Linked DNA regions of Homo sapiens: regions 2, 3, 4, 5 and 6 are each reported to be linked to region 1. The links are microRNA targets in miRTarBase. Many come from high-throughput screens and were not tested one by one. Region 1 holds a microRNA gene; each other region holds the end of a gene's coding sequence. Distances are between the middles of the regions.
The links. Region 1 holds the annotated microRNA hsa-miR-30c-1-3p (CUGGGAGAGGGUUGUUUACUCC, at 2,025-2,046, shown strand). A microRNA usually pairs through its seed, bases 2 to 8, with sites in the 3' UTR of a target mRNA and lowers its output. Matches are read on the target gene's strand: a 7mer-m8 pairs with bases 2 to 8, a 7mer-A1 pairs with bases 2 to 7 and ends in A, and an 8mer does both.

Region 1 (4,087 bases):
GAGCAAGTGCCCCATTCTGGATTGATCCAGTCATTAAAGCATTGTTCTGCCACTTGGGGCAACCTCCCACTGCTGGGAAAAGGAACTAGTCAGAAATACTGAATTGTGAGTCCAAGGCCCTGACTTCTCAAAGATACTTGAGAGTTTCGCTTGTTCTTCAGAGAAGCAAGTAAAGATTATTTGAAGGTAGGAGGTAGTTGAGGCCTGACTTCTGCCCCACTAAAGCTATTGAGTTGAAAGTTCCTGCCCATTGAAATGTCATTATCTTTTCACCCATTTCTTTAAACCAAGCATAATCATTTCCTTGCTGGCTTGACCTCCATTGGCAGAATGAGTCTTCATAATGCAGAAGAGCCTTAGATATGCCTTCTTCCATTCCAGTGATTTGAGAACAGTTGTGCCTTGTCCTAACAACACAAACCTAGGTGCCTCCACTTGATTCTCAGTGTCCTAGATACTGTCTAGTTCATAAACAGTTTAAGAGGATGTAGTAAGCAGCATAGGAGGAGCTCTTGTCCTGCTCTCACAGCTTTTGGCAAGAGATATTTTGGGTTCTGGAAGGGGTTTTTAAAGGGTTTGCTTTTTGTCTGACAAAAAGATCATATTCAATACTAGATCAGCTGTAGTTGGGGATAACTGGAGACTAAACAATCACAGGTCACGGCTAGAAAATGCAGGTGTCTCCCTGCTGCCTAGCTTCCTACACAGCTGGTTCTGAGGCTCTCATTCCTGTATACCCTCTCATTACCCAAGAGCTTTTCCAAGTTAGGTCTGGATTTCAGTGATTTGTGCTTTTTGTAAAATAATAAGGGAGATCTCAGTGGAACACAAGTACCTTGAACCTACTTCAATAGCTTTGCAAAGAGCAGTTGGCTTCTGTTTCTTGGCTGCAAAAGGTATCAGTATTTTAGCTTTGCCACAGCCAATACCTAGTTTCCAGGCTGACATTTATTTATAATGATGATAAGTTGGGGTTGAAATTGTTGTGGAAATTGAGACCTAGATGAAAATAAAAGGGAATCTCCTTTTCCTTCTGCCTTAGCATAATCATATTGAGGGTTAAAACTATTTGTGTCTGAAGCACAGACTATATCAACCTAAAAAGTCAGTTCATATATTAACTTAGAAACCCAGAATGTTACAGGTATCTCCCTAAGCTGGGTAGATGGCTGTCAAGTAACCATGTCATGCAGAGACCCATGTTTCTCAGGGGTAGATACTGGCAGTCCTAGTTTTAGTATCCTAGCCCCCAGACATCAGGCAAACAAAGGATACTCAGCTCTGTTCCACAGGGGACACTAGCTGCTTCCTCACACTGTGGCCACAGAGTCTTAGAGGTACCAAAAGAGAGTTTAGAGACTACTTTTTTCTATTGGTAACAGCTGTTGGGTTTAAGAGAATTTGTCATATCAGCAAGTTGGATTCAGAGAACTACTTTCCTGCCTCTAACTGTCTGCCTGTCTAAATCCATTCATCATTCATCACGCACTTACTGAGTGCCTACCTGGGAACGCGGGGGATAGCAGAGAGCAAGAGAGAGCTAGGCTTTGCCCTCATGGTGCTTAACATTTTAGTAGAACAGACAGTTAATTTGACATGCAAGTGCAAAAATGTATACTGTGAGGACAGTACTTTGGAAGCACAGTTGAGGGCACCTAACATAGTGTGGGGATGGGGTCAATACCAGCTTTGTAAATGTTACTTTGGGGAGTTGGAGGCAATCCACAGGGTCTGTGTACATCTAAGAAGTGTCTTTTCCTCTTTTCTGGAACGTGGCAAACTTTGCCCTGAATAAGGACATGAGTAAATTTAGCTAATATTTTTACTCAGCCAGCCCAAGTGGTTCTGTGTTTTTATTGTTTTTGTTGTCCCAGGCAGGGGCACCATGTGTCACACAGGTCACTCCGGATCAGACGCCGTTCTGTGTCAGTGGTCAGGGGCTGATCAACCCTGGACCCTGTGGGCTATAACCATGCTGTAGTGTGTGTAAACATCCTACACTCTCAGCTGTGAGCTCAAGGTGGCTGGGAGAGGGTTGTTTACTCCTTCTGCCATGGAAAACATCAGCTGAAGAAGGAACAGTCTCCACTCCGCAGATCGGACAGAATGCGACCTCCCTAATCAGCCAAGGCAGTACCCCAGCGGAGAGCTGTCCATCAGGCCCCCTGGGTTGCGCTTCTGTGGCTAAGTACAACCAGAACCAGATGTGACACTGGATAGACATGCCCTCAGTGACCACAGAGCTTTCAACAAGCTGTGAAAAGCTGGGTACTTGCCTACCAGTGCTCTCGATCCTGAAATTTCAGCTCAGGAAAAGCCCTGTTTCCCATTAACCTGTTCTGTCCCCCTTGAAGTGGTGGGGCTAAAACGAGAAGAGTGCTGCCTATTTGGGAGATTGGGACCAGGCCTGAGAGGCATGATGTTTGGGTAGCATCTTCCCAACACTTGCAATTAGCACTGTTCTCAGATCACAGGCCTTGACAGCATTTACTGACAAGCACTGCTGGTGTGTGGTTTTTAGTTACGGTACTTATTTGCCCGTTTGCAACTTATCATGCAATGGGTGATTATTTCGTACTTCAGAAATTGGCTGTATGTTTTGTGAAGCCTATAGGATCTGTTATTTTTAGTTTGATTTAGCATAACTGGTCTCTTTGAATTCCACTTTCCTTTGGCTTCAAATGTGGAGAGCTCAGCATTCAGCAGGCAACTGCACATAGCCTGTTTGGGGGAAGAGTGGAAATTCACTGTGGCGGCTGCTGAGTTGGTTCTTTTCCTCTTACCTGCCTCTCTTTCCACCCAACAGGAGGAGGTGCGCCAGTCTGTAACTCCTGCCGAGCCAGTCCAGTACTATTTCACGCTGGCTCAGCAACCCACCGCTGTCCAAGTCCAGGGCCAGCAGCAAGGCCAGCAGACCACCAGCTCCACGACCACCATCCAGCCTGGGCAGATCATCATCGCACAGCCTCAGCAGGGCCAGGTCTGTGAGCTGCTGAGGATGCCCATCCAGCAAGACAGTGCCCCTTAGGTTTTTGGATGGGCAGAGCTTGATGAGGGCAGAGAGGCAGCCAGATCATTATAGAGCACTGGATTTAAAGTCTGGAAACTGGAACTTTTCCCCAGATTCAGCTACTGGGGTGAGATGTTACCCTAATCTCTCTGGACCCTGTTTTTCTCAAAGGTCAAATGAGGAAAGTGTACTAGACAGTATGTTCTCCAGGATCCCTATTAGCTCAGAAATTTTAGAAGGGAAAAAAAAATGTCTGAAATGCCTTATGAAGAGTAGAGGTGCTAAAGTGAACTCCATGCCTGCTGTCTGTGTGTCTGTGTGAGAAGTGGAATTTGTGCCCTTAAAGGGAGAGATTAGGTATCATTGCCAAGTTGCATACTCCTTCTCCCCGTCATTTCTCTGTCCCATATTTGTGTTAAGTGACCTTCTCTTTTTACGATAGTAATCAGAGGACTCTTTCTCTCCCCAGTAGTAGTGTTAAGAGCAGTAGCATTCATGTTTGTTGGGGGTCATGTGAGGCTGCAGAGAACTCTGTACTATGAGCTCTGAATCCAAATTCTCTGTCAATCATTATTTATTCATCAAACACTGAGCATCCTCTGAGGGTAAAGTTCTGTGCTATGTATTGGGGATACAAGCATGAATAAAACAGTCCTTATTTTCAAGGAATTCACAATTTAGTTGGGGATACAAATACTTAAAGGTTGTACCACCACGTGGGAATGTGTACAGGGTGTTAAAGGAACACATTAAAAGAAGTACCTTGGCTCAGCGCAGTGGCTCATGCCTGTAATCCCAACACTTTGGGAGGCCAATGTGGGAGGAACCCAGGAGTTTGAGGTTACAGTGAGGTAGGATCATGCCACTGCACTTCAGCCTGGGCAGCACAGCAAGACCTCTTCTTTAATTAAAAAAAAAAAAAAAAGGCAGGGGCATGTGGTGGCTCATGTCTGTAATTCCAGCACTTTGGGAGGCCGAGGCAGGAGGATTGCTTGAGCCCACGTGTTCAAGACCAGCCTGGGCAACATGGTGAGACCTTGTCTCCACCAGAACATCAGAACATTAGCCAGCCATGGT
Region 2 (4,081 bases), not on the chromosome of region 1:
CTCACGGGGAGCTCTGTGGGTGTCCAGGAGCTGACTGTGTCCCCTCCCCCAGGTACATCCCCACAGCCGCGGCCTTTGGTGGGCTGTGCATCGGGGCCCTCTCGGTCCTGGCTGACTTCCTAGGCGCCATTGGGTCTGGAACCGGGATCCTGCTCGCAGTCACAATCATCTACCAGTACTTTGAGATCTTCGTTAAGGAGCAAAGCGAGGTTGGCAGCATGGGGGCCCTGCTCTTCTGAGCCCGTCTCCCGGACAGGTTGAGGAAGCTGCTCCAGAAGCGCCTCGGAAGGGGAGCTCTCATCATGGCGCGTGCTGCTGCGGCATATGGACTTTTAATAATGTTTTTGAATTTCGTATTCTTTCATTCCACTGTGTAAAGTGCTAGACATTTTCCAATTTAAAATTTTGCTTTTTATCCTGGCACTGGCAAAAAGAACTGTGAAAGTGAAATTTTATTCAGCCGACTGCCAGAGAAGTGGGAATGGTATAGGATTGTCCCCAAGTGTCCATGTAACTTTTGTTTTAACCTTTGCACCTTCTCAGTGCTGTATGCGGCTGCAGCCGTCTCACCTGTTTCCCCACAAAGGGAATTTCTCACTCTGGTTGGAAGCACAAACACTGAAATGTCTACGTTTCATTTTGGCAGTAGGGTGTGAAGCTGGGAGCAGATCATGTATTTCCCGGAGACGTGGGACCTTGCTGGCATGTCTCCTTCACAATCAGGCGTGGGAATATCTGGCTTAGGACTGTTTCTCTCTAAGACACCATTGTTTTCCCTTATTTTAAAAGTGATTTTTTTAAGGACAGAACTTCTTCCAAAAGAGAGGGATGGCTTTCCCAGAAGACACTCCTGGCCATCTGTGGATTTGTCTGTGCACCTATTGGCTCTTCTAGCTGACTCTTCTGGTTGGGCTTAGAGTCTGCCTGTTTCTGCTAGCTCCGTGTTTAGTCCACTTGGGTCATCAGCTCTGCCAAGCTGAGCCTGGCCAAGCTAGGTGGACAGACCCTTGCAGTGATGTCCGTTTGTCCAGATTCTGCCAGTCATCACTGGACACGTCTCCTCGCAGCTGCCCTAGCAAGGGGAGACATTGTGGTAGCTATCAGACATGGACAGAAACTGACTTAGTGCTCACAAGCCCCTACACCTTCTGGGCTGAAGATCACCCAGCTGTGTTCAGAATTTTCTTACTGTGCTTAGGACTGCACGCAAGTGAGCAGACACCACCGACTTCCTTTCTGCGTCACCAGTGTCGTCAGCAGAGAGAGGACAGCACAGGCTCAAGGTTGGTAGTGAAGTCAGGTTCGGGGTGCATGGGCTGTGGTGGTGTTGATCAGTTGCTCCAGTGTTTGAAATAAGAAGACTCATGTTTATGTCTGGAATAAGTTCTGTTTGTGCTGACAGGTGGCCTAGGTCCTGGAGATGAGCACCCTCTCTCTGGCCTTTAGGGAGTCCCCTCTTAGGACAGGCACTGCCCAGCAGCAAGGGCAGCAGAGTTGGGTGCTAAGATCCTGAGGAGCTCGAGGTTTCGAGCTGGCTTTAGACATTGGTGGGACCAAGGATGTTTTGCAGGATGCCCTGATCCTAAGAAGGGGGCCTGGGGGTGCGTGCAGCCTGTCGGGGAGACCCCACTCTGACAGTGGGCACACGGCAGCCTGCAAAGCACAGGGCCACCGCCACAGCCCGGCAGAGGGGCACACTCTGGAGACCTTGCTGGCAGTGCTAGCCAGGAAACAGAGTGACCAAGGGACAAGAAGGGACTTGCCTAAAGCCACCCAGCAACTCAGCAGCAGAACCAAGATGGGCCCCAGGCTCCTCCATATGGCCCAGGGCTTACCACCCTATCACACGTGGCCTTGTCTAGACCCAGTCCTGAGCAGGGGAGAGGCTCTTGAGACCTGATGCCCTCCTACCCACATGGTTCTCCCACTGCCCTGTCTGCTCTGCTGCTACAGAGGGGCAGGGCCTCCCCCAGCCCACGCTTAGGAATGCTTGGCCTCTGGCAGGCAGGCAGCTGTACCCAAGCTGGTGGGCAGGGGGCTGGAAGGCACCAGGCCTCAGGAGGAGCCCCATAGTCCCGCCTGCAGCCTGTAACCATCGGCTGGGCCCTGCAAGGCCCACACTCACGCCCTGTGGGTGATGGTCACGGTGGGTGGGTGGGGGCTGACCCCAGCTTCCAGGGGACTGTCACTGTGGACGCCAAAATGGCATAACTGAGATAAGGTGAATAAGTGACAAATAAAGCCAGTTTTTTACAAGGTACTTGATCATGTTCTCTTGATTTTAAATTAGATTTTATTCCCAAAAAGGCCAGTGAGGCGCAAAGCTTGGTTGCAGCTTTGTGTGTGTCAAAGGCTTGGTTGGGGCACTCAGGCATTTTGCCTGGAAAAGTTCCCTTCTGATGGTCATGTCAACCTGGTGCTCACATTTGTGATAAAGTGATATGGGTGCTGGGCCACATGTGGAGCTGCTGCAGGGCTCTGCCCGTGAGGCAGAGTGCACTGGCTGTCCCGTGAGAATGCAGAGGCCTCCGCTGAGCCAGGGCGCCTGCCACCCCGTGGAAGAGTGGGAACCTTCTAGCAGGAGCCTAGGGCCCCATAACTCGAAGCCCTTTGAGCCTCAGCTCCAGTACCCAGCTGGTGATTGGAGAAGTCTTAACTTGGTTGTGAGGCTGGCCTCAGACCCGACCTGTAGCCAAGCCAGAAGGACCCAGTGTTGTGTGGGTGGGAGTGGCAGGCTTGTGGCTGCTCCCTTAGAACGTGTCTAGAAGTCTTTCTGTTTCTACACCAAGCCCCCAGTGGTAGGCCACATTTCCACTCTCCCCAGTCCTGGACAGGGCCTCACCCCAAACCTGCCGCCGTCCCCACCACCTGGGCCTGGTGCTTCCTCAGGAACTTGAGGGGCAGGTGGGTGGGCAACCCCAGGGCAGGCCTGACCAGGGCTGTGGGAGGTCGTTACTCCTTAGCTGGGCTCCAGCCTCAGTATTTCCTTGTAGTCTTAGACCTTGTCTTGGAAACTGATTTCCAAGGGGAGTTGGGTCAGAGCAGGATGGTTCCTCTGAGACCACCTGATGGACAGGTGTGGGCCTGGCCTTGCAGAAGCCACACCTCAGCACTGTGTTTTGAGACTGCTAGGACACATGTGCAGCCAGGTCTGCCCCGCGCTCCCTCTGCACCTGCTGGCCTCAGGGCTCAGGGAGGCCCTGGACAGGAGCACAGCACGTGGCCTCAGGCTCCAGACCAGCCAGGCGCTGTGAATTGCTGAGGCAGGCAGGGTGCTTGCCAGTATAAATATGTTAGAAAACCTGCTGCCCCAGGGAAGCAGTAGGCCATCTCTCGTGCCTCAGGTATTCGTTTGCACCTGTGGCCGTGGCCCCTCTTGCCTGAGAGCAAACGGAGCCCACATTCCAGCAGCCACGCACGCTTCAAGATGGCAGGCCCTGGTGTCTCTCCACCTGGCTCCTCCCCATGCACAGGGAACTAATGCACAGTGATGGGGGGGTAAGGCTTACTCTGCTTTTTCCCTTGGGGCAGGCACTGTCCCAGCCACTTCCTACATGTGCTCTCACTTCACCCCACTAGAGGCCCAGGAGGAAACAAGTCCGTCCATTTTACAGGTGAAGAAACTGAGGCCCAGGGAAATAGAGTGTGGCCAAAAGTCACTTAGCTCCCGAGCCAGGACAAAAAGCCTAAGGCTCACTTCCTACTCCAAGTCCCTGTCTGGCTGCTGGTCCTGCCTGCAGGTACTTCTGCTAGGGACGTAGCTGGGGCAAGGAATGAGGAGTCTAGGGAAACAGGCCCCACCCCCGGAGCTTCCCCTTGCTGCCCTTGGCTCAGGGGCAGCACCCGCTTCAACTGGCACTCCGCTCCATCCATGGTGCTGCTTTACCACTGCCTCCCTGGACCTGCTGATGCCCTACCCCATACCCCGCCCCCAGCCTGCTCCTGCTGAAGCCAGGCCAGCATGAAGTCCTCAGGAAGGCTGGGATGAGCCTCCCATCTCATTTCTGAGGGGTCTGAGCCCCATGGCCTGGGGAAGAGCAACGGATTCCTGATGAGGGCCAGGGGATGGGCATGTGGCACT
Region 3 (4,087 bases), not on the chromosome of region 1:
AACCTGTGGTGCCTTTATCATAGCTCATTTCACCCTTGCCTGCAGTTGTCTCACTCCCTTTCCAGACAGGGAAGTCCTTGAGATCAGGGACTGGGTATCCACTATGTGCTAAGTGCCACCTTAACTGCTATTAAGAGCATTTTAGACCAAGCGCGGTGGCTCACGCCTGTAATCTCAGCACTTTGGGGGACCGAGGTGGGTGGATCACTTGAGGTCAGGAGTTCAAGACCAGCCTGGCCAACATGGTGAAACTCTGACTCTATTAAAAACACAAAAATTAGCCAGGCATGGTGGCGGGCGGCCTGTAATCCCAGCTACTCGGGAGGCTGAGGCAGGAGAATTGCTTGAACCCGGGAGGCAGAGGTTGCAGTGAGCCTAGATCGTGCCACTGCACTCCAGCCTGGGCAACAGAGCAAGACTCTCAAAAGAAAAATAAAAAAAAAATGAGCATTTTAATAGCTACCTTTATTGACTGTGTTCTCAGTGCCTGGTGTTAGGTGAACTTTGCATGTATATTATCTCATTTAATTATCCTTTTGTTGTTGTTGTTTTTTGTTTTTTGACACAGGGTCTCTGTTGCCAAGGCTGGAGTGCAGCGGCATGATCATAGTTCATTGCAGCCTCAACCTCCTGGACTCAAGTATTCCTCCTGCCTCAGCCTCCTGAGTAGCTAGGACTACAAGGTGTGCACCACCATGCAAGGCTAATTTTTTTTTTTTTTTTTTTTTTTTTTTTAGTAGAGACGAGGTTTCACTATGTTGCTCAGGCTGATCTTAAACTCCTGAGCTCAAGCATTCCACCCATCTCAGCCTCCTAAAGTTCTGGGATTATAGGAGTGAGCCACTGCGCCCAGCCTATCTCATTTAACTCTCACGGGAGTCTAATTAAGCAGGTGTCTCCATTTCACAGAGTGAAAACTGAGGAAGAGACAGCATTCAAGTAATTTGCTCAAAGTCATACAGCAAAGTGATTGAAATGCATTTCCTTCTCTACCTGGTGAACTCCTACTTATCCTTTAAACTCCTGCACAAATGTCCCCTCATTGAGAAGCCTTTCCTGACTCCTTCAGGCACAGCCTGTGGACTTGGTGTGGTGCACCCCATACCCCCTTCTGTTACAGCACTGATCTATTTGTGTTATGTGTTCACACAGCAACGGGGGTGACTTCTGTGTGCCGGGCACAATACAGGAGCTTAGAAAATCACAGTGAACAAATATCTGAATCACTGCCCTCACGGAATTTGTGGGGAAGGGTGACATAGACCATTATCAAGTAAACACAAATGAGATAATTTCAGGTATAATAGGTGCTATTAAAAAAAAAAACAAACAAACAAAAAACAGAGCATCGGGACTGGATGACCAAAAGTGGACTCCTATAGCCTGGGCAATTCAGGAAGGCCTCCCGGAGGAGGTGACTTTTGAGTGGAGACCTGAATGACAGGAATGTAAGACTGGCCTGTCTCCCTGACCTAACTAGCAGCTCCTTGAGGGTAGTGCCTGGTCTGATTCATCTTTGAGGCCTGGCATAAGACGTGGCTCGATAAACATTGTGGAGTGACTAAAGGGACGGGTGAGTTGCCTTTAATAATGAATCGAGTTTTCAAGTTTCCACCGACCTCGCTTCTGGTCTTTGGATGACAAACCCAGCTGATACGCCTGTCTGACATTTCCTGCGTGTGCTAATGGGGGCAGAATGGGAAAGAGGCCACGGAAGGGAGCTGTGTGCTCAGACCTTGTACATCAACCTCCTGTGGGCTCTGCAGGGTGGGGGACCTTGTGATCACCCCTACGTATGTCCCCAGCACCCAGCACTGGGCCTGGCACATAATAGATGCTCCATAAATTGGTAACTGAAAGGACAAACAAACAAACAAAAACCCCGTGCTTAATGGGAAATTTCTGTTGTGCCTATATTCAGCTAGCTTATGTTACTGCTTCAAAGTTCAGGATAAGCTGAGACACTCAAACTTCTTCTTTTTTTGAGATGGAGTTTTGCTCTTTTGTCCAGGCTGGATGGAGTGCAATGGTGCAATCTTGGCTCACTGCAACCTCTGCCCCCCGGGTTCAAGTGATTCTTCTGCCTCAGCCTCCCAAGTAGATGGGATTATAGGTGCCTGCCACCATGCCTGGCTAGTTTTTGTATTTTCAGTAGAGATGGGATTTCACCATTTTGGCCAGACTGGTCTCGAACACCTGACCTCAGATGATCTGCTTTCCTCGGCCTCCCAAAGTGCTAGGATTACAGGCGTGAGCCACCACACCCAGCGGACACTGAAGCTTCTATTAGCCTTACCTGGATTCTGTGTATTAACTCCCCTTCCCTCCCCCAATTTCAGGGAGAATCAAACAATTCCTCCTCCCAAGTTTTCAGGACGAAAATCTCACAGCCAATTAATAACAGACAAACCAAAGATTTTCCCCTAAATGTCAGAGGGAGGTTTCTTGGCACAAGCTGGGCAGTTGAGGTGGCAAGGGTTTCCCAATCTTCACTACCCCCTCGGCCCTCTGGTCTTAGAGGCTGGGATAGAAGCAAGGTGAGGTCCCTTGAGTTCAGTGGCCTCATGAAGGCAGAGAAGGTGCTAATGACTCAGGGCCAGCCTAGCTCGGAGGAACTGGTGTTGGGTGGAACCAGAAGTGGGAAACAGTGGGAGATGAGAAGGAAGTGGTTAAAAGGTGTTTCCTGGGACTTGGAACTAGGGTGAGGAAAATGATTCTTCCATCATCCCTAAGGGTTGGGGATGGAAGGTTGGGACTGGGGGCTACCCTGTGCACTTCTTCCCTGGACACACGCTTTCACCGGGACGTGGTCAGATCACGACAACAGGTAACCTTTAGTCAGAACTCACCACCCACTGTGTTAAGCCTTACATGACAATCACCATGAAGATTTACATACACATGTTATATCATAGTCTCCTCACAACATGTCTAAGAGGTAGGCACGTCATTGTTCCCATTTTGCAGATGAGGAAACTGAGGTTCAGAGAGGGCACTTGGCTTGCCCAAAGTCACACAGCAGGGAGTGGCAGAGGAAGTCAGGTTGGGTGACCCCAGTAACTGCTCTCAGAGGCTGGGTGATGACCGGCTTCCTGGCTTCTCTGGAATAAACCTTTGCCACCACTTCCTGCATTTCAGCTTCAGTACAGGCAGAGAATGGGGATAGGTGGGGGAATGAGGTGAGAGGGGAGATGTTTAGAGGTGTGGAGGGCGGCAGAGGTTTGAACAGTGCAGACAAGGGGAGAGTTCAGCCGACTGGGGAGGAAGAGGATGGACGATGGAGCCTCTGGGCATCTGGATCAGCAGGAGCATAACATCTGGATCAGCTGGAGCGTAGCATCTGGATCAGTTGGAGCGTATGACTTTATTGATCCAGGACATGTATTTGCAGATCTGGGTGTAGACAGCTGGATGCTGGGCAGAGCCACAGGGGTAAACACCCCACGAGAGGATGCCTTGGAGGGTCTCGTCACAGACCAGGGGGCCTCCAGAGTCACTCTGGGGGTGGCAGGAAGGAGAGATCAAATAAATGTGCCAACGTGAGAGCTGTCACTTTGGGATCTGGGGCAGTGGTGGGGAAGGAAGGAGTTGGGTTGGGATAAAGACGAGGATGGGATGGGGTTGGAATTAGGTATGAGCTGGAAGGTAGGAATGGAGGTGGACTTCAGGTTATGGGAGGTTGGGCTGGGGGATGAGAATGAAGGCACAGTGAGACTGGGGTTGGGATTGTAGTTCATGGAAGGTGAGGGGATGAAAATGGGCTTGGAGATGGGAATGGGGTGGGGTTGGGATGGAAATGGGATTGAGGATAGGGATGAGGAGGGGGTTAGGTCTGGGTAAGAGTTGGGGTCAAGGATGGGTTTGGGAATGGAGTTGGGGATCGGGCACAGGGTCTGCTCTTTTCCCATAACCTCCCTGTCCTCCCTCCCAGGAGTCAGAGACTCTCCCTGTTCAGACCCTACCTGGCAAGGGTCCTGGCCCCGGTCCAGTCCAGCACATATCATGTTGTTGGTGACCACGCCAGGGTAGAAGACCTCACACTCTTTAGGGCTCAGGATAGTGATGCTGGAGCAGGTCAGGCCCTTGT
Region 4 (4,087 bases), 160 Mb from region 1:
AAGCCTCAGAAGGTAGGAAACAGCAACAGCAAACTGCTCTTGTGTGTGTGAGAGAGGGAGACACACACACACACACACACACACACACACGCAGACATCAGGTCCCACATTAGCCTCCAATGACCTAGTATTTTATTTTTAGTGCCTAGGCAAGGTCTGAGAAACAAATACATTGGACAAAACTTGTTGGTCTTCTTCATCCAGAAATTAAGGGACTCAGCTCAGGAACCTCTCCTGGAGTTGTGGCTCTCCCCATTGGTTGACATTAGATATTGAATTCATGTCATTTCCTAGACAACTGTGGTGAGGGATGGAGTTGGGGGGCTGGAGAGGAAGATAATAGCACAAATTCCAGTATTAGGCTGGATTCTTCTGAAGGTGCCTGGCGGTTGAGAATTTAGCTATGGGACCCAGTGTTTCTTTTCTGAAGGATCCCAGTAGTCTCAACCAAGAAGCAGGACGTAGGTGGGAGAGAATGCTGTAGATTTGCTCCTTGCCATAAATTCTAGGGCAGTGAGTGGGGAGCTCAGGTTTTCTGCTTCAGAGAAGTCTGGATGAGTGTCCCAAGGGGTTATAGCACCATGAGGAGGCTCAGCCTTCTGCAGTTGCCATATAACTGTGATTCCTTCATGAGAATGATCAATCCCCACAGTGAGGGGCCCAGATGTGCAACTGTAAACAGGGTCCCAGGCTCCAGAGGGAAAGCCGAGGCTTCAATACTACCTCACTAGACGGGAACACACTTTCTGGAGGAAAGCAATTGGAGACCTGGCCTAAATGCAGCAGTCAGCTGAGAGTAGAGGGTGGTGGATCCCAGGAAGAGAAATAAAAAGTCATAGCATGAGGCCTCCAGAATCAACCTGCTGAGGATCCAAATAAAATTCATGGTGGTATCCATGGTTACCAGAGAGCCAAGAATCCCTTTGGGGTCGGAGGCAGTTGGAATGAAAGAAGGGGTTCTCCCCTCTCCTTTTTCTCAAGTAGCCAGTAACATCCATGGCAGAAGGCACTGGCTGGGCAGCACCAGAAAATAGAGTGAAGCGCTCAACCATCAGATTAAGATGGCATTAAAAGTCTGAGCCTTGCCATGGAACTGGAGCTTAGGATAGGGTTTAGAAGAGGCCTAGATCCCAAGCAGGCCCATCCAGTCTTCTCTTCCTTCTAAGTTAGAACAGCCAGCTCGGGGGCCTCCTCATTCTGCACAGCAGAGACCTTAAGGCAGTGATTTCAGCACCATCCTTGGACACACAGCCTCTTCCCACCACAGAATTGCATATGTTACAGCTGAGTTGGTTAGGGATCTTCACAGCTCATGGAATTAGCAGCAATAGCAATAATAGTCTCCATCATACAGAACCCTGTCATCCATGGGAGCTTACCACGTGGATGCAGAAGCTTTTGTGAGGGGCAGCCCGGACCATCTTTTGGACTTAATATACCGATATGAAGATTCAGATGCATCTACTCCTCGGTTGGGTGGAAGAGTGATCCAGGTTGGTATGCCTATAGATTCTGATAAAGTCTTGTGCTACTTAGGAATCTGAAGAGCAAACACTTAGGCCGGTGCTCATCACATATCCTTGACCTGCAGAGTCCTGAAGCTTCAGCCTACTAGGCAGCTCAGCCTAGAAGCTGGTCCCGCGGGGCTTTCAGAAATGGCAGGAAGTAGACTTGCCCATTCCTGACAAGCAAGATTCCATAGTCCTTCAGGCTCCATCTTAATTGATCCCAGATCTTCTGCCCCCAATGTATTGTACATCTAATCAAAAGCTTCTTTCTAGCTGGCTCCTTGGGTTTCAGCTACATTTCTTAGATGATCCCGAAGGTCTAGATAACAAGGGGGCGTAGCTGAATGGAGGTTAACATTTCCTGCTGGACTGTAAACTTAAGGGCCCAGGTCTTGTGTGTGTGTGTGTGTGTGTGTGTGTGTGTGTGTGTGTGTGTGTGTCTGTTTTAACCTAATGATTTGTATATAGTGAGTACTCAGTAAGTACTTGTCAAATGAAAGAACAGGGATTGCCAGACCTTCAAGGCAATGGGAAAGGAGCAAATCTGCAAAGGTAGGATCTCTTTGGAAGGCAGGTATTGGCCACCAAGTCAAACTCCTTGAGTCTTATATTCTGATTGGGATGATCTCACATGGATGTTCATCTCTTATATGTGAATACTCATTTGTGAAAAATAGTAAGAGCCAGCTAGGATATTTGGATTCAGTCAGGCACCATCAGAATAGTGCAGTGAAAGGCCAAACTGGCCACAAGACAGAGGAATGTTTTCAGTTTTCTGGTTTTCCTCTGGTCCATGATAAAGCTCGGAGTAACTCTTCTATCAAGATGGGGCTATACCTTCTCATGACAGAGGCTGGCAATTGAGCTACCCAGCAGAACGTGTGCTCTCAAAAGGGAAGTCAAGGGAACTGGGTTCCTCTTCTCCCTCTACTTCTGAGCCAATGCTTCATGTCTCATATAAGCCCCATGGATGCCAAAGATAGTGGCATGGCAGGTGTCATGCCAATTGCATGGCATCAGATTCTCCAAAGAAAACCCACTTGGAAAAGCCAAACTAGCCCCTGGAAAAGCAACCCAAGCATCTCGTGGACATGTGAGGAAATGGAAAAACGGAAAAAGAAAAAAAAAAGGGAAACAAAAAAATAAATAGGCAAATGGGAGAAAAAAATGAAAACAAAATAAAAACCAAAAATAAAAAAGTAGGGTTTATTGACTCTTATGCATTGTTAAATTAGAGGGTAGAAAGACAGAGCTGGTAGTCTTTCCCTGAAGGCTGTAAGGTTATTTTTGTGGTTTGGTGACTTCTCAGGTTGGCAGCCGTCTTGTTGATGTCCCCTATGTCATCCAGAGGGCAGGAGCGGGCAGCTCTCTACCTTGGCAACTGGTTCCTCTCTCTCCAGCTTCATCTTTTCCATTGTTTTTTGTTTGTTTGCTTGTTTTTGTTTTTCATTTTTACCTTTTACAGATTGATTTAAACATTTTTTAAACCACATGCTTCTTTTTCTGGGCTCCAGCCAGATCTCTGGGGGAGGAGTTGTTGGCAGTGGTGATGGAATTGGGAAGGGTCTGTGAGAAAATCTGAGGAGCTTCCTGCCTCCCCCAGATCTCCCTCACAAGACTGTCTCTCTCAGGGTTGCTTGTGAGAATCATTTAGGAACTGCTGCAGTGTTTTGATGTTTTCTGAACCCCTCCCCAGAAAGCCCAGGAGTTTGTAATTGAAACAAGAAGTCAAGGGAAAGACCCAGAATCATCTTTTCCCCAAAGTCATTAGAGGAGGCCAGTAAATGTGTTTAGGGGGCACAAGTTCCCAAACGCCACCCCACCATTCCTTCCTAGGAAGTTCTCAAAGGTACAGCACCAAGAACCTGTCCCTCCTCTTTCATCTCCTCCTCCCTCCTGTTCTCCTCCTGGGGCTGGAGAGCCAGTGCTCTGAAAGAGGAGAGGGGAGAGGAGGAGCTAAGATAGCTGATGCCAGCGTTCTGCTGTCCGGGGGTGACAGTGATTGCCGAACCCTTAAAGTGTTGCCTGAAGGTTGGGGTCCAGGATGGTTTCTCGATCTGGAGACTCAATGTAGTTGGCAGCTTCTTGAAGTTTCAGCAGCATGGCCATCTAAAGGGGGGCAAAAAGATGGATTTATGAGAGTTGGGACTCTGGGTCCTGCCCACAGAAGGGAAACAACAACAACAAAATCCCAACACTTTGGGAGGCCAAGGTGGAAGGATAGCTTGAAGCCAGGAGTTTGCAATCAGCTTTGAAAACAAAGAGAGACCCTGACTCTACCAAAAAATAAAAATAAAACAATAAAAAACTGGCCAGGCGTGGTGGCACACAACTACAGTCCCAGCTACTCAGGATGCCAAAGCCCAAGTGGGAGGATGACTCGAGCCTATGAGCCTAGGAGTTTGAGGCAGCAGTGAGCTTTGATATCATCACTGCATTCCAGCCTGGATGAAAGAGCAAGACTCTGTCTCCAAAAAAAAAAAAAAAAAAATCTAGATCATGGGTCTGATCCTTGGTTTCTCAGTGATGAAGAGCTCAGAGTTTAGAGTGGTTTGTGAAAAGGCAATGAGGATTTCTTC
Region 5 (4,087 bases), not on the chromosome of region 1:
CAGAGCCCTCATTGCAGTATGCGGCCACCCAGCTGTACCCTCCGCCCCCGTGGTCCCCCAGCTCCCCGCCTCACTCCACGGGCTCGGTGAGGCCGGTCAGGGCACAGGGCGAGGGCCTCTTGCCCTGAGCACCCTGGATGGTGACTGCGGATAGGGGCAGCCAGACCAGCTCCCACAGGAGTTCAACTGGGTCTGAGACTTCAAGGGGTGGTGGTGGGAGCCCCCCTTGGGAGAGGACCCCTGGGAAGGGTGTTTTTCCTTTGAGGGGGATTCTGTGCCACAGCAGGGCTCAGCTTCCTGCCTTCCATAGCTGTCATGGCCTCACCTGGAGCGGAGGGGACCTGGGGACCTGAAGGTGGATGGGGACACAGCTCCTGGCTTCTCCTGGTGCTGCCCTCACTGTCCCCCCGCCTAAAGGGGGTACTGAGCCTCCTGTGGCCCGCAGCAGTGAGGGCACAGCTGTGGGTTGCAGGGGAGACAGCCAGCACGGCGTGGCCATTCTATGACCCCCCAGCCTGGCAGACTGGGGAGCTGGGGGCAGAGGGCGGTGCCAAGTGCCACATCTTGCCATAGTGGATGCTCTTCCAGTTTCTTTTTTCTATTAAACACCCCACTTCCTTTGGTTTGCTTTGCTTTGCATCTTCAGGGGTGAACCTGGCGGGGATGGGAGGTGGCCAAGTGCAGGAAGTGGAGGGGGGCAGGGCTGAGGATGCGGATTTGGAGTGGATGGAGCCTGCCCAAGGGATGTGGAATGAGAGGGATGCCAGGGATGGAGTTCCGGCCCAGCCCAGCCCAGCCCAGCCCAGCCCAGCCCAGCCCAGCCCAGCCCAGGGGCCTCTGCAAGCCTGGGTTGGGGGAGGCGGTGTTGGGCTGATACCTTGGCTTTGACCCTTGCCATCCTCCCTCCCTCCCTCCCTCTCTCCCTCCCTCCCTCTCTCCCTCCCTCCCTCCATCTGGCTGCCCCCAGGCAGCCCCTAGCAGGGACACATATGGGACATTTCAGAGACCCAGGTCTGGCCCTGGCACCTACATTGAGATCTGAGATCCTCTGGGAACCCCCAGCCTGTCCCCCTGCAGCTGGGATCTGGGGTGGGAAAGGTGAGGTGTGGGGATGGGGTAGGAAGCAGCCAGGCAGAGGCAGGGGTGTTAATTACAGTACACCTTTATTAATACTGGAATCTTCACAGTGCATCTGTTACTTGTAGCAGTGACTATATTTAAATCGGGGAGGATGGTGTGGAGGGGGCGGGGAGGAGAGGAGAATTTTTCCAAAATCTGACGGAAAGAAAAGAAACAAATGGTTCAGATGGGACGGAGGGTGGGGGAGGGGGGGAGGGTGAGTAGGAACCAGGAGGGCTGCCTGGGGTGGGGGAATAAATTAAAAAAAGGAACGAGTTAACAACAGCACCAGGAAAGTTACTTCAGTCAAAAGACGCTTTTGAAAAGAATATTTCTCCGTACAAAATGAGAAATTAAACGAACGTAAAGTCCCCCAAACCAAAGTTTGTGATGTGGGATGGTTGGCTCGGATCCCGAGGTGGGTGGGCCTATGAGGTGGTTGCTAAGTCGACGCAAGGGCGGCGGGGGTGGTCTCAGGGATGGACAAGGGGATGGAGTAGAGTATGTACAGCCCCCGGGGCTCACAGGGGAGGGGGACGGCGGAGTCGGTGGGGGCTGTGCCACACGAGCCCCCCTCTCTGGGTAGCCCCTGCCTCCTTTCCCATCAGGACCTCTGACGCCCAGGTCTGCCCACCCACTGCCCCTCACTCTATTCCCACCACATCCTGAATCCTGCTCCACCGCCCTGCCTCGGAAGACCCCTGCAGCCCTGGGGAGAATGTGTGGCGGAAATTCTACCCAAGACTCCCCAAATAATTGGTCACCTGCTCTCCTGGCCCCTAAAACCGGGGCTCTGGTGTTGGCCTGAGCTCCACGGGCTGAGTGCTCGGCCAGGCAGTTGTTGAACCTAGTGACTTACTTACAGGGACCATTCTTCATCAGCTCCCTCTGATGGGACTCTGTCCACATCAGGGCCTGCTTGGTGCCCGGACCTACCCAGGAGCTGCCCAGCTCACCGCACAAGAACTCCCAGGAGCTCAAGCCTGGGAGGCTCAGACCCAGCTCCATTCTATCAATCAATCAATCAATCATCAAGACCAAGGTGCTCCTGACCCCCAGGTAGGACCCTGCCCTGGGGCCACGATGCCCTCTGAGCCCTGCTTTCCCTCCTGACCTGCGGGGCCACCAGGACTCCCTCCGCTCGCCCTAGGCTCACGTGCTTTTACCTGCTGAGACTTGGCGTGACTTGGTGCGTGGGGTGGGGGCAGCCTTGCCCCTCCCCTTGCCCCCGCTGCCACCACGAGCCTGGACTACAGTGGGGGCCGTGCTGGGATGGCATCTCCTCCGGCAACAGAGAGTCAAAGCCAATCTTCCCAGACTCGCTCCCCCACCTGGGCTTGCAGCCAGCTCAGACCACAGCAGACAGGCCGGGAGCCTCCCAACCTTATTTTGGCTACGCTCGAGACACTGGAGAGAACAGTAGCTTCCACCGGGCTCTGGGGGAGCCAAGTCCCTCCCTTCTCATCCTGCCATAGGACCACCGGGGGGTCCCTGTCCCCCAGGCACTCCCAGACACACACCCTGTATCGTCCCCTCTCCCCCACACTTAGTCCTCGTCCACAGTCAGCTCCATTTTATTATATTCATAAAATGACCCCACACCTCCTACTGCTCCAGTCACCCCCCGAAAGGTGGCTAAAACTGTGACCCCCAAAGTTAAAAGATTGATGTACCCAATGAGAAGTGGACATCTGAAAACGGTGCCTGTGTGGCTGGCCGGTGACCCCAGGGCCTCCGGCCTCCTAACCCTGCTGCCCTAGTTTCCAAAGAGCTGCTCTGGCCCCCTCCAGCCAGCCTCACGGGGTGGGGGAGGCGAGGGGTGGGAGCCACCACAGGGCCCCCAAGACCCCCCCCCCCAAGCAGCCCCTGGTTTCCTCCCTGAGACTTGGCGTGGGCCCTGGAACTCCCTTCCCACACGGGGGGCCTGGCCGCCCAACTCCAACCTGCCGCCCTGGCCCCCAGCCCCCAGCAGACATCCAGCCCAGCGTGCACCTGGCCCCTCCACAGCCGCCCCGCCTCCTGGAGGGAGAGGGGCCTGGGAGAGGCAGAGAGAAGGCAAGAGGGGAGGAGGGGGCTCAGGCAGGGGAGAGGGGGGCCAGCATTCCAGGAGGAGCTGAGGCAGGACCAGCCCTGGGAGAGGCCGGGATGGTGAAAGGGAGGCCAGCCTGGCCCCTCTGTCATGGGCAGCGGCCCTGGCTCTGGTGCTTATGGGTAGGGAAGAGGCAGGGCCCCAGAGGAGGAAGAGGAGGGACCGAAGAGCATAAAACAGACCCCGAACCAGGCCCAGGCCTGCAGGCTCCGTCCTGGCCAGGCTTGCTAAGAAGTCACTTCCTGTTTAAATGCTGGAATCCAAGTGAGGTGTCTTTCCATAAAGTGGCATGGCCTCTGCCCTGGCTCTGTCCTCTCTCCTGGCTGGGCCTTTGCTCTGAGTGCCTGCGGCTCACAGACCAGGCCACCTGCTCGCACTGGGGCCTGAGAGGATGGGGAGGGTGGCGCCATCATAAGATGCGGGGCGCCGACCTGTCGTTGGTGACGGTCCTGCGGAGCCGGACCCCACGCCGGATGGCCACCAGCATGTCTTCGGCCGGGGGGTCGCTGGTGGCGGCTGGGGGTGGGGTGGGCGTCTCCTCCGTGGGGGTGGCCGACAGAGCAGTGGGGAAGGGGAACTGGCCCTCACCCAGTGCGTGGGCACCCGCCACCAGCTCCCCCAGCTTCTCCACCAGGCTGTGCCGGTTGGCCGCCAGCTGCTGCTGCTCGTCCTCGGCCCCTGCCCCGGGGTACCCGGCTGCCTCTGGGGATGGGCTGCCCCAGGCTGTGTTGGGCAGGCTGAGCCTCTTTGGGGAGGCCTTGGCGAGGTCCGGTGCCAGGGGTGAGGCGGTCTCGTCGGTATAGAAGACGCACTCCTCACTGCCCGCCCGTGTGGGCCCCATGTAGCCGGGGGAGTCAGGCACCGTGGGCGTCTTCACAG
Region 6 (4,087 bases), not on the chromosome of region 1:
TTTTGATAGCTTGCAGATACGTTAGTTTGTAACCAGGTTTTGGCTTTTCATATAATGCTGAATTTGCCTGAGATGCTAGTGTTTTGTGTGTGTGTCTATGTCTACTTGGTTAACTGTATTTAAATGGTGTCCAGATCATTCCTTTCAACAGGAAGCAGCAACTTCCATTTATTGTTACTTTGTGTCAGGCATTACATGAAGTAGTTAACATCCAGTATCACATTTAGTCCCCACAATAATTTTATGAGATAGGGGGATTTATCCTAATGTCACAGATGTAAAAGCATAACATCAGGAGTGCTTAAGTGATTTACCCAAGACACAGACCTAGTGAACAAGAAAAAAATAATCTACTTTTATGTACTTCAAAAGCTAATTTCCAACAAATGTTCATGGTAATTTACTTTGGAATAAGATGCAAATAATGTTTTTGCTATTTATTCTGCCTTTCTTTATATCATGCATAGGAATTCAACCTTATTGATAGAAGAGAACTTGCACCACTCCAAGAACTGATTGAAAAACTCACCTCAAAAGACAGATAAAAGGATGCAGAGCTGTGCAAATTGTTCCTCAAATGAAGCAGTGTGGAGTGTATTGGGGATTTTGTTATATTTTGTTTTTATCTGGATTGTTTTTGTCCTAGGTTTGGGGGCGGGGGCTTGTTTGGGTTCCTTTTTCTTTATTCTGATTATGTGAAACCATATTCTATTGCTAGGGGAAGCCAAGAACCATTCTCTATACACTTGATAAGGGTAAATTTATCTTAGTGTTTTTAAACTTGGTTTTGGTTACTTGAGGAGTTTTTTAATAATATTGTGTGCTGCAAGAAAGTGCTTGTTGATTGAACTGCCGATGGATTGGTTTCTGTGTGGTATAAATTGTGGCCCATTTATGAAGTCCCCAAAAGAGTTATGTTTTTAAGTGCCTTGGCAGGCTCACTTCTGAGGTGCAAAACATAGATATAGAACTGAACAGGGCTTGAAACAATATTAGGATTACTACCCAGGGCACTTACTGGTGCATGTTGTAACATATCTATGATAAAAGCCATAGTTTACCTAAAATGGTGATTTCCAGCCTTTACTGCTTTGAAGAAACAGAATTTGTAAAGGTATGCATGTAGAACATAAAAAATATTTCTTAATTATTTTTTATATTGATGGTAATATATTACGTTCAACAATGCTTAAAGCTCTACAAGCAGGTCTTTTCCCACCTCTTGATATCTGTGATACTGAAACTTGAGGATGTTGAAATGTATTACATTTTGGCTTCTTTCTACATGTTAACTGCACTGTAGATGTAAAAATTCAGGTTATATATAGGATTGCCATCTTCAGAGGTGATGCTGAACTGTGAGGTTTCCTAGTAATTGCCAAATGAGCCGTAAGTCTGCAGAATTCCCTTCTACTTTGAAGAGAAGGGGATAGGAATGTATATTTGGCTGGGGGCATGGAGATGTTCGTATGTATGAGGAGTTAGGGATGGGGAGTCAAGTTCTAGAAAGTTTTGTCTGAAAACCTTTGAATAGAATGGCATGAAGATTTTAATCAATTACTTATAAACAAAGTCTTAGAGACTTCCTTTTAGGAATCAACTTCCATGAGAAGTTAAAAATAAATTATTAATTTTAGGTACAGACATTAAACATGGAATTTAAGGACTGTTGGGGGAAATTGATCACTTCTTAGCATTTCCATTCAGTGAATGGAGCTGATGTTTGCCTGTCATTTTAAGATGATACCATACCTTCTTTGGTTATTATAGGTCCAGTTTGAAGCATTCTGACTTCTGGTTTTTCCACCCTGAAAGGAAATGTTTTTCTTTGCAGCAGTATTAGATAATGAAAAATGCTAATTCAGTAGTTATTAACTTCTAAATTTTATTCGCCATGACTTTCTAGTGAATTATTACCATAAATAACAATTTCAGAAACTTAGTTTTTAGAATAAATATTAATTTTTCCACTTCAGTTTTATTCTAGAAAATACCCTTTTTAGAAATCCAGTTTTAGTTTTGTCATTTTCGATAAATCTTTCTTCAGTTAGAAATATATATCCTTCCTTCAGTTGAAACATATACCTTTTTCACATCTAGGAAGAAATGCTTGCTCTGAAATAGTATAGATTAAAAACACTCAGTAGAAAAGAATCTAAAATTAAATGAATTTGTTTTGCCATTAAAGTAGAGCAGTGATACAATTTAATGCCATTACAATTATGTTGACTAGAAACTGCCTTTTTCTCCACTTCATTTCTAGCAATTATTTACCAAGTACCAACAGTAGAAGTAACAGGAAAGCCTGGCAGAGTTAAATATCTTGGACATTTATTGGTAAAGCTTATTTATAAACTGCAGTCAGAGCTAGTTAATTTCCTTAAATCTTTTTGTATTCAGATAGATAATATGAATCATTATGGGTTGATTCAGAAATAAAATTTGTGAGGTGATTTTGAATCTTGTCCATATAGGAAAATGAAGCACAGAATTACTCAGTCTTCCATATTGTATTTGACTTCATATCAATCTAGTAAAAAAGGAGTTGCAATAGCCAAGTATAGAGAGAATAGTGAAAAATTAATCTTGCCCTTTCAAGCCTTATACAGTAGTACACTGTACTTGTTTTTAGTAGTAAGACCTACTTTCCCACTATATGTAGATAGTTTGTTTTCACTGTGCCAGAATCTCAGGTGCCTGCTTAGAGTATTTCTTTAATCACAGTCACTGGGAAGTAAGGAGATGTATATATGTGTATATATGGTAACAAAGCATAGCAGTTCTCTAGGGGAGAGGCCTGGCATTGCACATGGTGTTACATGGCTACAAGTAAGGAAAAAATCAGAAAGTGAAAGAACTGATGTAATAAAAGGTTGATTTGGTTGGTTCCCATGAAAGTTAGTAAGATGCCCTTTTAAATATAAGGATCAGTGCTTTGTTCTGCAGCAGAGTTTGCTGATAAATGTCTGTTGGATTCTTTTTGGATTTCTTTAATTAATTTGTAAGTAACCAAGATAATTATTTTCCCCCTTGCTCTCTATATTAATACGTAGCTATAAAGCAACAGTTGGTTTTCTTATCCTTTGATAAAAGCATCCCATAAAATATAAAGTAGTAAGTTAACATAGTATTATTGTCACACACAATGCTTTTTTTGGTTAAATGTTGATACGAAGCAATGTTTTGGAATTACTTTAATTGATGGAGTAGTGGTGGTAGAGAGAAATTAATAACAAAAAGAGTGAAAATATTTTAATTAGCAGTAGATGGTGCTACTGGCTTTCATTTGCTGACTTGATTATTCCCTTTCTCTTAAAAACCATGGCATTAGACTGCACTAAATTAACAAGCATGTTAGTTGCTGGTAGAGGTTTTGGAGGTTAATTTACCTTAAATTGGAAGACTTTTAATTGCAGTCTCTTTCTACCTTCCCTCTGTTAGTCATTTGTAAATTCTAAATGGTCACCATAAAATGTATTAGGTAGGAGAAGATACGTTTTATGTATAATATATCTCAGACTGAGTTACTGCCTGTCTTATCAGGATGGATAAAACACTACAGTCTCTTATCAGGAAATAGAGATGATGTGGATATTTATATATTACATATATAACCACCAGACTCCATTTTATATATTAGCATTTTCCTTGCTTATGGGAAAATAGCAAAACAACATTTCATTTATACTTTTGTTTACCCCTCTCTGAGACAGGTTTTGATAACCACTGAAATGGTAGAATATGTGAGATACAAATATTGAGTTGTAGAACTTTCTTTTTAAGGTGAATAAGTCATGCCTTAACATCCAAATAAGAGTTCATCTTCAGAGTGGTTCTTTTGGGAGCACTGTTTATTCCAGCTATACTGCAAAAGTATAATGTTTTTGGAACTGTTCTAGAGCATACCATGAAAAGCAGTTTGTTATTATGCAGGAAAATCAGTTTCATCATTTTAGTTACACTAAACACTTTTGGCAGCTTAATATGACCTTTTTAAATTTTTTTTATTTTTTTTATTTTTATTTCTTTAAGATGGAGTCTTGCTCTGTTGCCCGGGCTGGAGTACAATGGCATGATCTCAGCTCAC

Region 2: the mRNA of SEC61A1 is a reported target of hsa-miR-30c-1-3p. Seed matches in the 3' UTR shown: 7mer-m8 at 1,921-1,927.
Region 3: the mRNA of KLK10 is a reported target of hsa-miR-30c-1-3p. Seed matches in the 3' UTR shown: 7mer-m8 at 2,649-2,655.
Region 4: miRTarBase lists NAV1 as a target of hsa-miR-30c-1-3p. Seed matches in the 3' UTR shown: 7mer-m8 at 2,664-2,670 and 7mer-m8 at 467-473.
Region 5: miRTarBase lists MTSS2 as a target of hsa-miR-30c-1-3p. Seed matches in the 3' UTR shown: 7mer-m8 at 3,251-3,257 and 7mer-m8 at 3,156-3,162.
Region 6: miRTarBase lists MOB1B as a target of hsa-miR-30c-1-3p. The part of its 3' UTR that is shown has no 7-base or 8-base seed match.

The regions. Positions count from the first base shown.
Region 1 is chr1:40,755,315-40,759,401 of GRCh38, forward strand. MIR30C1 (microRNA 30c-1) reads left to right here and starts at 1,970; the gene lies at 1,970-2,058. NFYC (nuclear transcription factor Y subunit gamma) reads left to right here. Exons shown (of 10, transcript NM_014223.5): 6 at 2,807-2,980.
Region 2 is chr3:128,069,424-128,073,504 of GRCh38, forward strand. SEC61A1 (SEC61 translocon subunit alpha 1) reads left to right here. Exons shown (of 12, transcript NM_013336.4): 12 at 53-2,260. The coding sequence ends at 239. It also overlaps a transcript of RUVBL1 not described here. Among named protein-coding and RNA genes, the nearest start is that of RUVBL1-AS1, 4.3 kb to the right of the region's middle.
Region 3 is chr19:51,011,455-51,015,541 of GRCh38, forward strand. KLK10 (kallikrein related peptidase 10) reads right to left here. Exons shown (of 6, transcript NM_145888.3): 5 at 3,963-4,087; 6 at 1,285-3,498. The coding sequence ends at 3,346. Among named protein-coding and RNA genes, the nearest start is that of KLK9, 3.9 kb to the left of the region's middle.
Region 4 is chr1:201,819,367-201,823,453 of GRCh38, reverse strand. It overlaps NAV1 (neuron navigator 1), which reads right to left. Exons shown (of 34, transcript NM_001389617.1): 34 at 1-3,617. The coding sequence ends at 3,522. The region is part of intron 1 of IPO9-AS1 (IPO9 antisense RNA 1); the gene reads left to right. Among named protein-coding and RNA genes, the nearest start is that of IPO9, 7.7 kb to the left of the region's middle.
Region 5 is chr16:70,660,060-70,664,146 of GRCh38, forward strand. It overlaps MTSS2 (MTSS I-BAR domain containing 2), which reads right to left. Exons shown (of 15, transcript NM_138383.3): 15 at 1,145-4,087. The coding sequence ends at 3,618. It overlaps IL34 (interleukin 34), which reads left to right. Exons shown (of 6, transcript NM_001393494.1): 6 at 1-623. The coding sequence ends at 128. Among named protein-coding and RNA genes, the nearest start is that of IL34, 16 kb to the left of the region's middle.
Region 6 is chr4:70,981,513-70,985,599 of GRCh38, forward strand. MOB1B (MOB kinase activator 1B) reads left to right here. Exons shown (of 6, transcript NM_173468.4): 6 at 468-4,087. The coding sequence ends at 545. Among named protein-coding and RNA genes, the nearest start is that of DCK, 10 kb to the right of the region's middle.